Linked DNA regions of Homo sapiens. The protein of the gene in region 1 purifies or fractionates together with the protein of each later gene. This does not show direct contact. Each region holds a gene or a part of one and is shown on either strand. Other genes may lie near its edges.

Region 1 (4,973 bases):
CGTCTGTTTTTCTGATTGCAATATAATTCACATTAATTGTATAATATACAGCCAAGTATAGGCCAGGCATGGTGGCTCACGCCTGTAATCCCAGCACTTTGGGAGACTGAGACAGGAGGATCACGAGGTCAGGAGTTCGAGACCAGCCTGGCCCATATGGTAATACCCCGTCTGTACTAAAAATACAAAAATTAGCTGGGTGTGGTGGCGATCGCCTGTAGTCTCAGCTACTCAGGAGGCTGAGGTAGAAGAATTGCTTGAACTTGAGTGGCAGAGGTTGCAGTGAGCCGAGATCGCACCACTGCACTCCAGCCTGGGCAACAGAGCAAGGCTCTGTCAAAAATAATAATAATTAAAAAAAAATACAGCAACATACAAAGAATAATCATCCATAAGCTCAGGTCTGAAGAGAACCACAACATTCATTTTTAACTGTTTCCTTTCAGATAATATGATTAACTTATTTTATGAAGACATTAATTGATCAACAGCTAGAAAATGATCATATTTACCAATTTTGGAAATGCTCAAAGTTGATATGTAAGTCCAAATATGAAAATAAAATAGCCAATTATATTTATACATAGAAAAGACAAATTTAACCAAGCATTAGTGGGTTATAATTTAACTAAAAAATTCTAGCTAAGTGTGGTGGCTTACACTTGTAATCCCATCAATTTGGGAGGCCAAAGCCAGAGGATTGTTTGAAGCCAGAAGTTCAAGACCAGCCTGGAAAACGATGAAACTCCATCTCTACAAAACACGGCGAAACCCTGTCTCTACAACCACCACACCTGGCTAATTTTCATATTTCAGTAGAGATGGGGTTTCACCATGTTGGCCAGACTGGTCTCAAACTCCTGACCTCAGGCGATCCGTGTGCCTTGGCCTCTCAAAGTGCTGGGATTACAGGCATGAGCCACCATGCCTGGCCTACAAATTTTTTTTTTTTTTTAATTAGCCAGGCGTGGTGGCACGTGCCTGTAGTCTCAGCTACTCACCAGGCTGAGGCAGGGGGTTTGCTTGAGCCTGTGAGGTAGAGGCTGCAGTGAGCTGTGATCACATCACTAAACTCCATCCTGGGCAACTGAGACTCTATCTCAAAAAACAACACCCCAAAAACACTCTGTAAATCTACAAATGCAAATCAGCCTAGATTATGGAAAAACATAGATAATTACAATCAACTACTAGTCCTAATACCAATAGTAATAACCTTAAATAATGTTTTATAAATGTTTATCAATATTACTAGCTCCCAAAATATATCCTGACCACCTTGGAGGAGAATATTTTAACTTGTAAATGACATAAACAAATAAATACGAGATTAAAAGTTTAAGGAAAGGCTCTATATAAAAATTCCTTAAGATGACACTACAGATTCTTTTATTTACTAAGAAAATGCCAATGATACCCTGTCATAACAAGAAATAACCTAATATTGCTTAACCTTAAGATATGCCTATTGTAACAGATCCAGACCTATTTTTATTATACTAAATAAATTAAAACTTCTAAAGCTACATTTAAGAAAGTCAGAATTTGCCTCTCCCTCTCCCTCGTCTCCCACTTTCCAGGGTCTCCCTCTGATGCCGAGGGGAGGCTGGACCGTACTGCCGCCATCTCGGCTCACTGCAACCTCCCTGCCTGATTCTCCTGCCTCAGACTGCCAAGTGCCTGGGATTGCAGGCGCTCGCCGCCACGCCTGACTGGTTTTTGTATTTTTTGGTGGAGATGGGGTTTCGCCGTGTTGGCCGGGCTGGTCTCCAGCTCCTGACCGCGAGTGATCTGCCCGCCTGGGCCTCCCGAGGTGCCGGGATTGCAGACAGAGGCTCGCTCACTCAGTGCTCAATGTTGCCCAGGCTAGAGTGCAGTAGCGTGATCTCGACTCACTACAACCTCCACCTCCCAGCCGCCTGCCTTGGCCTCTCAAAGTGCTGAGATTGCAGCCTCTGCCCGGCCGCCACCCCGTATGGGAAGTGAGGAGCGTCTCTGCCTGGCCGCCCATCGTCTGGGATGTGAGGAGCCCCTCTGCCCGGCCGCCCAGTCTGGGAAGTGAGGAGCGCCTCTTCCCGGCTGCCATCCCATCTAAGAAGTGAGGAGCGTCTCTGCCCGGCTGCCCATCGTCTGAGATGTGGGGAGCGCCTCTGCCCCGCCGCCCCGTCTGGGATGTGAGGAGCGCCTCTGTCCGGCCGCGACCCCGTCTGGGAACTGAGGAGTGTCTCTGCCCGACCGCCACCCCGTCTGGGAGGTGAGGAGCGTTTCTGGCCGGCCGCCCCGTCTGAGAAGTGAGGAGCCCCTCCGCCCAGCAGCCGCCCCGCCTGGGAAGTGAGGAGCCCCTCCGCCCGGCAGCCGCCCCGTCTGGGAAGTGAGGAGGGTCTCCGCCCGGCAGCCGCCCCGTCCAGGAGGGAGGTGGGGGTCAGCCCCCAGCCCGGCAGCCGCCCCGTCCGGGAGGGAGGTGGGGGGCAGCCCCCCCGCCCGGCCAGCCGCCCCGTCGGGGAGGGAGGTGGGGGGCGCCTCCGCCCGGCCACCGCCCTGTCCGGGAGGGGGGGGGCGCCTCTGCCTGGCCGCCCCGTCTGGGAAGTGAGGAGCCCTTCTGCCCGGCCGCCACCACGTCTGGGAGGCATGCCCAACAGCTCATTGAGAGCGGGCCATGATGACGATGGCGGTTTTGTCGAATAGAAAGGGGGGAAATGTGGGGAAAGGAAAGAGGGATCGGATTGTTACTGTGTCCGTGTAGAAAGAAGTAGACATAGGAGACTCCATTTTGTTATGTACTAAGAAAAATTCTTCTGCCTTGGGATGCTGTTAATCTATAAACTTACCCCCAACCCCGTGCTCTCTGAAACATGTGCTGGGTCCACTCAGGGTTAAATGGATAAAGGGCGGTGCAAGATGTGCTTTGTTAAACAGATGCTTGAAGGCAGCATGCTCCTTAAGAGTCATCACCACTCCCTAATCTCAAGTACCCAGGGACACAAACACTGCGGAAGGCCGCAGGGTCCTCTGCCTAGGAAAACCAGAGACCCTTGTTCACATGTTTATCTGCTGACCTTCCCTCCACTATTGTCGATGACCCTGCCAAATCCCCCTCTCCAAGACACACCCAAGAATGATCAATAAATACTAAAAAAAAAAAAAAAAGTCAGAATTTGTTTTCCAGAGCAAGTATACATTCTCATTTTCTGAGAAAATGGTGTAATGTCTCTAAATTAAATTAAGGGGCTGAAGGAACAAATCACAATTTAAAACATTCCTACATTATGCTATCACCCTATATTCCTAAACCTATCTAAATATGACAACTTGGCAATTGTTCCTCTATATAAACTGGATTTATATATGGCAACCAGGTTTCTAGTTCAAGTCTAGTTTATAAAACAACACAAGACATGGCTGGGTGCAGTGGCTCATGCCTGTAATCCCAGCACTTTGGGAGGCCGAGGCGGGTGGATCACCTGAGGTTGGGAGTTTGAAACCAGCCTGACCAACATAGAGAAACCCCGTCTCTACTAAAAAAAATACAAAATTAGCCGGGCATGGTGGCACATGCCTGTAATCCCAGCTACTCGGGAGGCTGAGGCAGGAGAATCACTTGAACCCGGGAGGCCGAAGTTGTGATGAGCCGAGTTCACGCCATTGCACTCCAGCCTCGGCAACAAGAATGAAACTCTGTCTCAAGGGAAAAACAAAAACAAACAAAAAAAAAACCCAGCAAGACATAAGACTTAACTTATAAAAATGTCTATTAAACACAATTACTACACCATCAAGTTTATTATAATAGATAGAAGCCATTATCTGCTATTTTTAACAAGATTCATAGAGCAAAATGGAAAAAACTAGAAATCAAACTTACATAGCAACCCACATGGAAAAAAACAAAAAATAAAAATAAAATCAGTGCTAGCATCTAAGAAAACATGTAAATTATCATGTCACTGCTGTTTCCATGGTAGCAGACTAGTATATATAAAGAATAGATTATAATAGATATAATAATATATTAATATAAAAAAGAACAAAAAGATTTAAGGGAGGAATCAAAAATAAATTCAAGTAATCTGTAAAACATTTTCCTATTTTTTTTTTTTTTTTTGGAGACGGAGTCTTGCTCTGTTGCCCAGGCTGGAGTGCAATGGTGCAATCTCGGCTCACTGCAACCTCTGCCTCCCGGGTTCAGGCCATTCTCCTGCCTTAGCCTCCCGAGTAGCTGGGATTACAGATGGGCGCCAACACGCCTGGCTAATTTTTGTATTTTTAGTAGAGACGGGGTTTCACCACGTGTGCCAGGCTGGTCTTGAACTCCTGACCTTGTGATCCACCTGCCTCGGCCTCCCAAAGTGCAAGGATTACAGGTATGAGCCACCACGCCTGGCCATCTCTATAAAACATTTTCTTGGTAAGCTCATTATGGTTTTAGAAATCAAATGATTTTTGTAATCAAATTCTGGATCTCTAAAATATTAACTGGTATCACTAAAACTACTAGTAAATCTCCAAATAACAATTGCTTACATGTTTCATGATATTGTTTTGTGATTTAAATATTTTCTAAATCGTACCTTTATAAAATAATTGTCAATAAAAAGCTCTATGACCATGAGTTAATTTTTTTCTTTTCTTTTCTTTTTTTTTTTTTTTTTGAGACAGGGCCTCACTGCTGCCTAGGCTGTAGCTCAATTCAGTGGCTCAATCACGGCTCACTGCTGCCTTGACCTCCTTGGGCTCAAGCAATCCTCCCACCTCAGCCTCCTGAATAGCTGGGACTATAGGTGTTCACCACCAAGGCCAGTTAATTTTCTTGTTATTTTGCAGAGATGAGGTTTCCCCATGTTGCCTAGGCTGGTCTTGAACTCCTGGGCTCAAGTGATCCACCCACCTTGGCCTCCCAAGGTTCTAGGATTACAGGAAAGAGCCATCGCACCTGGACAGTTAAGTTTTTTGAAAAAATTATTCCATAATTTTAT
Region 2 (4,973 bases), on another chromosome or scaffold:
CCTTTCTGGGCTGGCCAAGGCTGGAGCCCACTCCCTCAGCTTGCAGGGAGGTGTGGAGGGAGAGGCGCGAGCGGGAACTGGGGCTGCCTGCAGCGCTTGCGGGCCAGCTGGAGTTCCGGGTGGGCGTGGGCTTGGCGGGCCCCGCACTCGGAGCAGCCGGCCAGCCCTGCTGGCCCGGGGCAATGAGGGACTTAGCACCCGGGCCAGCGGCTGCAGAGGGTGTACTGGGTCCTGCAGCAGTGCCAGCCCACCGGCACTGTGCTCAATTTCTCACCGGGCCTTAGCTGCCTTCCCGCCGGGCAGGGCTCGGGACCTGCAGCCCGCCATGCCTGAGCCTCCCACCCCCTCCATGGGCTCCTGTGCGGCCCGAGCCTCCCCGACGAGCACCACCCCCTGCTCCACGGCACCCAGTCCCATCGACCACCCAAGGGCTGAGGAATGCGAACGCACGGCGCAGGACTGGCAGGCAGCTCCACCTGCAGCCCTGGTGCGGGATCCACTGGGTGAAGCCAGCTGGGCTCCTGAGTCTGGTGGGGATGTGGAGAGTCTTTATATCTAGCTCAGGGATTGTAAACACACCAATCAGCACCCTGTGTCTAGCTCAGGGTTTGTGAGTGCACCAATCAGCACCCTGTGTTTAGCTCAGGGTTTGTGAATGCACCAATCGACACTCTGTATCTAGCTGCTCTGGTGGGGCCTTGGAGAACCTTTATGTCTAGGTCAGGGATTGTAAATACACCAATCGGCACTCTGTATCTAGCTCAAGGTTTGTAAATACACCAATCAGCACTCTGTGTCTAACTCAGGGTTTGTGAGTGCACCTATCGACACTCTGTATCTAGATGCTCTGGTGGGGCCTTGGAGAACCTGTGTGTCGAAACTCTGTATCTAACTAATCTGATGGGGACGTGGAGAACCTTTGTGTCTAGCTCAGGGATTGTAAACACACCAATCAGTGCCCTGACAAAACAGGCCACTCGGCTCTACCAATCAGCAGGATGTGGGCGGGGCCGGATAAGAGAATAAAAGCAGGCTGCCCGAGCCAGCATTGGTAACCCGCTCGGGTCCCCTTCCACGCTGTGGAAACTTTGTTCTTTCGCTCTTTGCAATAAATCTTGCTACTGCTCACTCTTTGGGTCCACACTGCTTTTATGAGCTGTAACAGTCACCGCGAAGATCTGCAGCTTCACTCCTGAAGCCAGCGAGACCACGAGCCCACCGGGAGGAACGAACAACTCCAGACGCGCTGCCTTAAGAGCTGTAACACTCACCGCGAAGGTCTGTAGCCTCACTCCTGAGACAGAGACCACGAACCCACCAGAAGGAAGAAACTCCGAACACATCTGAACATCAGAAGGAACAGACTCCAGACGCGCCACCTTAAGAGCTGTAACACTCACCGCGAGGGTCCACGGCTTCATTCTTGAAGTCAGTGAGACCAAGAACCCACCAATTCTGGACATAAAAATACATGCTAAGAATAATTTAAAGTATTGAAAACTAAAGCCGTGTATATTAAATGAAATTTGAAAGCTGACAAAGCATTAGCTGCTCGCCTAACAAAGTGCTCATTTCAGCCTGTTTATGACGCACATTCCAGCCATAGGAAAGTGTGTATTTGGCTCTGACACTGGTCCGAGCATTAGCAGTGTGTCCTGAAGCCCCTTCCAGGGAGGCAGGTACCTGAGACTTCATGGAAGTTTATTATTCCCTTTATTAACAATAAAAATTCTTTGTCTGCTTGCCCTGAGTTTGGCTTTACTGTTAAAACTGGCAGGCTTTTGCTAATTCAGATTTTAGATCAGTTTCTGATTTCATGTTGCAGTATTTGGCAACAATCTGACATTTTCATCTGTTTCTGTGTTTTCTTTTAATGTATTTGCAAATAGTACTCAAAAGTGAATATTCAAACCCTGGAAAATGCAATGTTACATGGGTCTCCTAGAAAGGTTTGCAGCATCAGAGCACCCAGCGCAGAAGGGTGTCCCCACCCATGGGAAAGCAAACCTTGGTACACTAGGGAGAAATCTGGGGGCATCTCTCAAAAATTTAAACGTCCTTACTCTGATTCAGCAATGGAACTTCACCCAAAAGAGTGCACAAAACACATAGATTCAGGACACCACTGATGTTAACATGAAGAAAAAGCTGAAAACAGTGTAAATGAACTAAATACACTGTAGTAGATCCATAAATTCTGATGTGGCTGTTAAAAATAATGAGTATCCACATATCCTTCCATGAAAAAGTCTCCAGGACACACTGTTAACGAGTGTGCAAAGAGCACAGTGTGAGGACAGGTGCATTGGTCAAGAGCCTGCGCTCCAGATTCAGACAACGTGGGTTCAAAGCCAGCCCAGGAACCAGAAGACTTAATGTTGTTAGACATTCCCCCAACTGATCTTCAGTTTCAACATCATCCCTACCAAAGTTGCGGCTGCCTATTCCACAAATCAGCAAGCTGATCCAAAACTGGAATGCATGGGACCCAGGAGAGCCAAAACAACCTTAAAAAGAGCGAATTTGGAGGACTCGGGCTTTCGACGTCAAGGCTTCCTACACAGCCACAGCAGTCAAGACCGGGCAGTTGCAGGACAGCTGTACAGATCAACAAAACAGAAACAACAGTCCAGAAATAAGCCTTCACATTTAGGGTCAACGGATTGTCAGGGAGGATGACAAGTTGGGAGGAAAAAGGAGTCTCTCCAGCACATGGTGCTGCAACAGCTGGACACCCACAAGCAAAAGACTGACGCTGGAGCCTCCTCCTACCACACCAGCATCAGCTCGACATGCACCGCAGAGCTAAAGTAACAACCAAAACAATAAGGCTCTTAACATGTAGGAGTAAACCTTGGGTTAGGCAGAAGCTTCTGAGATAAGACACCAACAGCACAAGGGACAAAAGAAAAAACAGCTAAATTGGACTTCAAAATTAAAAACTGTGCTGTAAACAAAACCATCGAAGTGAAAAGACAACCTACAGAATGAGAGGATATCGGCAAATCGTCTCTCTGATAAGGAACCTGTGTCTAGAACGTATATGAAGAACTCCTAAAAGTCAATAAAAAAAAGGCAAAAAACAGTTTTCAAAGTGGGGAAAGGGTATGAATAGACACTTCTCCAAAGAAGATACCCAAAGAGGCCAGGCATGGTAGCTCACGCCTGTAACCCCAGCACTTTGGGAGGCTGAGGCGGGCGGATACCTAAGGTCAGGAGTTCGAGACCAGCCTGGCCAACATGGTGAAACCCCATCTCTACTAAAAATACAAAAATTAGCTGGGTGTGATGGTGGGCGCCTGTAGTCCAAGCTACTTGGAGGCCAAGGCAAAGGAATCACTTAAACCCAGGAGGTGGAGATTGCAGTGAGCCAAGATCACGCCATTATACTCCAGCCTGGGTGACAGAGTGAGAATATGTCTCAAAAACAAAACAAAACAAAAACAAAAAAAAAGATACCCAAACAGCCAATGAGCACATGCAAAGATGCTCAACAGCATCAGCTGCCAGGAAAACGCAAACCAAACCACAGTGAGGTCGCTCCACGCCCACTAGAGTGGCTGCTAAGTAGACAACAACAGTAACAAGTGCTGGGAACGATGTGGAGAATCAGAGCCCTCGCACACTGCTAGAGGGAATGGAAAATAGTGCAGCCGCTATGGGAAACAGTGGCAGGGCCTCAAAATGTGAAACACTTAACACCCAGGAGAGTGAAAACACATCCACACAAAAAGTGGAAACCAATTTTCCATAAATTAATCAACAGATAAACCAAAGGTGGTGTATGCATACAGTGAAATATTAGATATAAAAAGGAATGGAATACTGATACATGCTACAACACAGGTAACTCTAAATATAAAATTATGCAGAGTGACATAACTAATCACTAAATAGCACACGTTGCATAATTCCATTCATATGAAATGTCCTGAACAGGCGAATCCAGAGAGACAGAAAGCATACTAGCTGAGTGGCTGCCAGGAACTGGGGAGACTGGGGAACAGGGAGCAGATGCTAACGGGGATGGGCTGCTTCTGGAGGCAATAAACATATTCTAAGGTTGATCATGGTGATGGTTGCACAACTATGAATATACTTGAAGCCACCGCATAGTTCACTTTAAATGGGTGAGGGGTATGGTAGGTAAATCATCTAAATAAAGTCGTTTTTAAAAAACCATCTCTGCAGTTTCTTTGCTACCAGATCCCACGGGCGTCTTGAATCCTTGCCAGGACTCAATCTGTCATCAGAAGAATGGGGCTATGAATAGGAATCTACCTAATCGGGTTGTTTTCAGGCCTACACCAGATGATGACCTCATTCAGGAACGTCGACGAAGTAGGAAGCCTCTGCTCCGCACCAGACACGAGCTGGAAGCTGACGAGGAGGCGGCAGCCCACGCTAGATGACCTGAGGGCTCTCAAGACCACGGCAACAGTGTACAGGAACCAGAATGCAAGGTCCAGAGTCTGGGCTGCAGGGGCAGCGACGCACACCCTCACTTCCCACCTTTCACACTTCCACGCAGTACAGTGGTTTTTTAAGATACCAGTTTTTAAATTGTGAACTTAAATTCACAAAGAAAATAACCTGAAGCAGAGCACTCTGGCTCGTTCACCTCTAATTCATCCGCACCCCCAGGATGCAGAGCTGGACAGGAAGCAGCAGCCGTGCACCGCAGACCCGCAGCCTGCAGATGGGACTCCCCATTGAGAGCCTCTCCCCGGGGATGACAGAGGGTTCTACTGCTCCTAAACATGGCCACCTCCTCCTTCCCGGTGAGCGGGTAAGACCTTAAAGCTCAAAGACGGGCTCCCGTGCTGACTCCACGCCGCTTTTCCTGGTCTGTGCAGTGTCAGCCTGCGTCTGCCTGCCCCTCAGATGACTCATCCTGCACTGCTGGCTCCATCACTCGCCGCCTTCAAGCCCCGCAGCCTCAGAGACCCCTCCATTAACTAAGCACCCAACAG

Evidence for each region. Proteins that work in one complex are often made in the same cells at the same time.
Region 2: the proteins of QNG1 (region 1) and NAXD fractionate together in Homo sapiens (co-fractionation; one large-scale study listed by BioGRID). This does not show direct contact.

What each region holds. Positions count from the first base shown.
Region 1 is NC_000009.12:83,945,965-83,950,937, forward strand, and holds part of QNG1 (queuosine 5'-phosphate N-glycosylase/hydrolase), read right to left. Parts: intron 1-4,973.
Region 2 is NC_000013.11:110,628,498-110,633,470, reverse strand, and holds part of NAXD (ATP-dependent (S)-NAD(P)H-hydrate dehydratase), read right to left. Parts: intron 1-4,973. UniProt on the Homo sapiens protein: Catalyzes the dehydration of the S-form of NAD(P)HX at the expense of ATP, which is converted to ADP.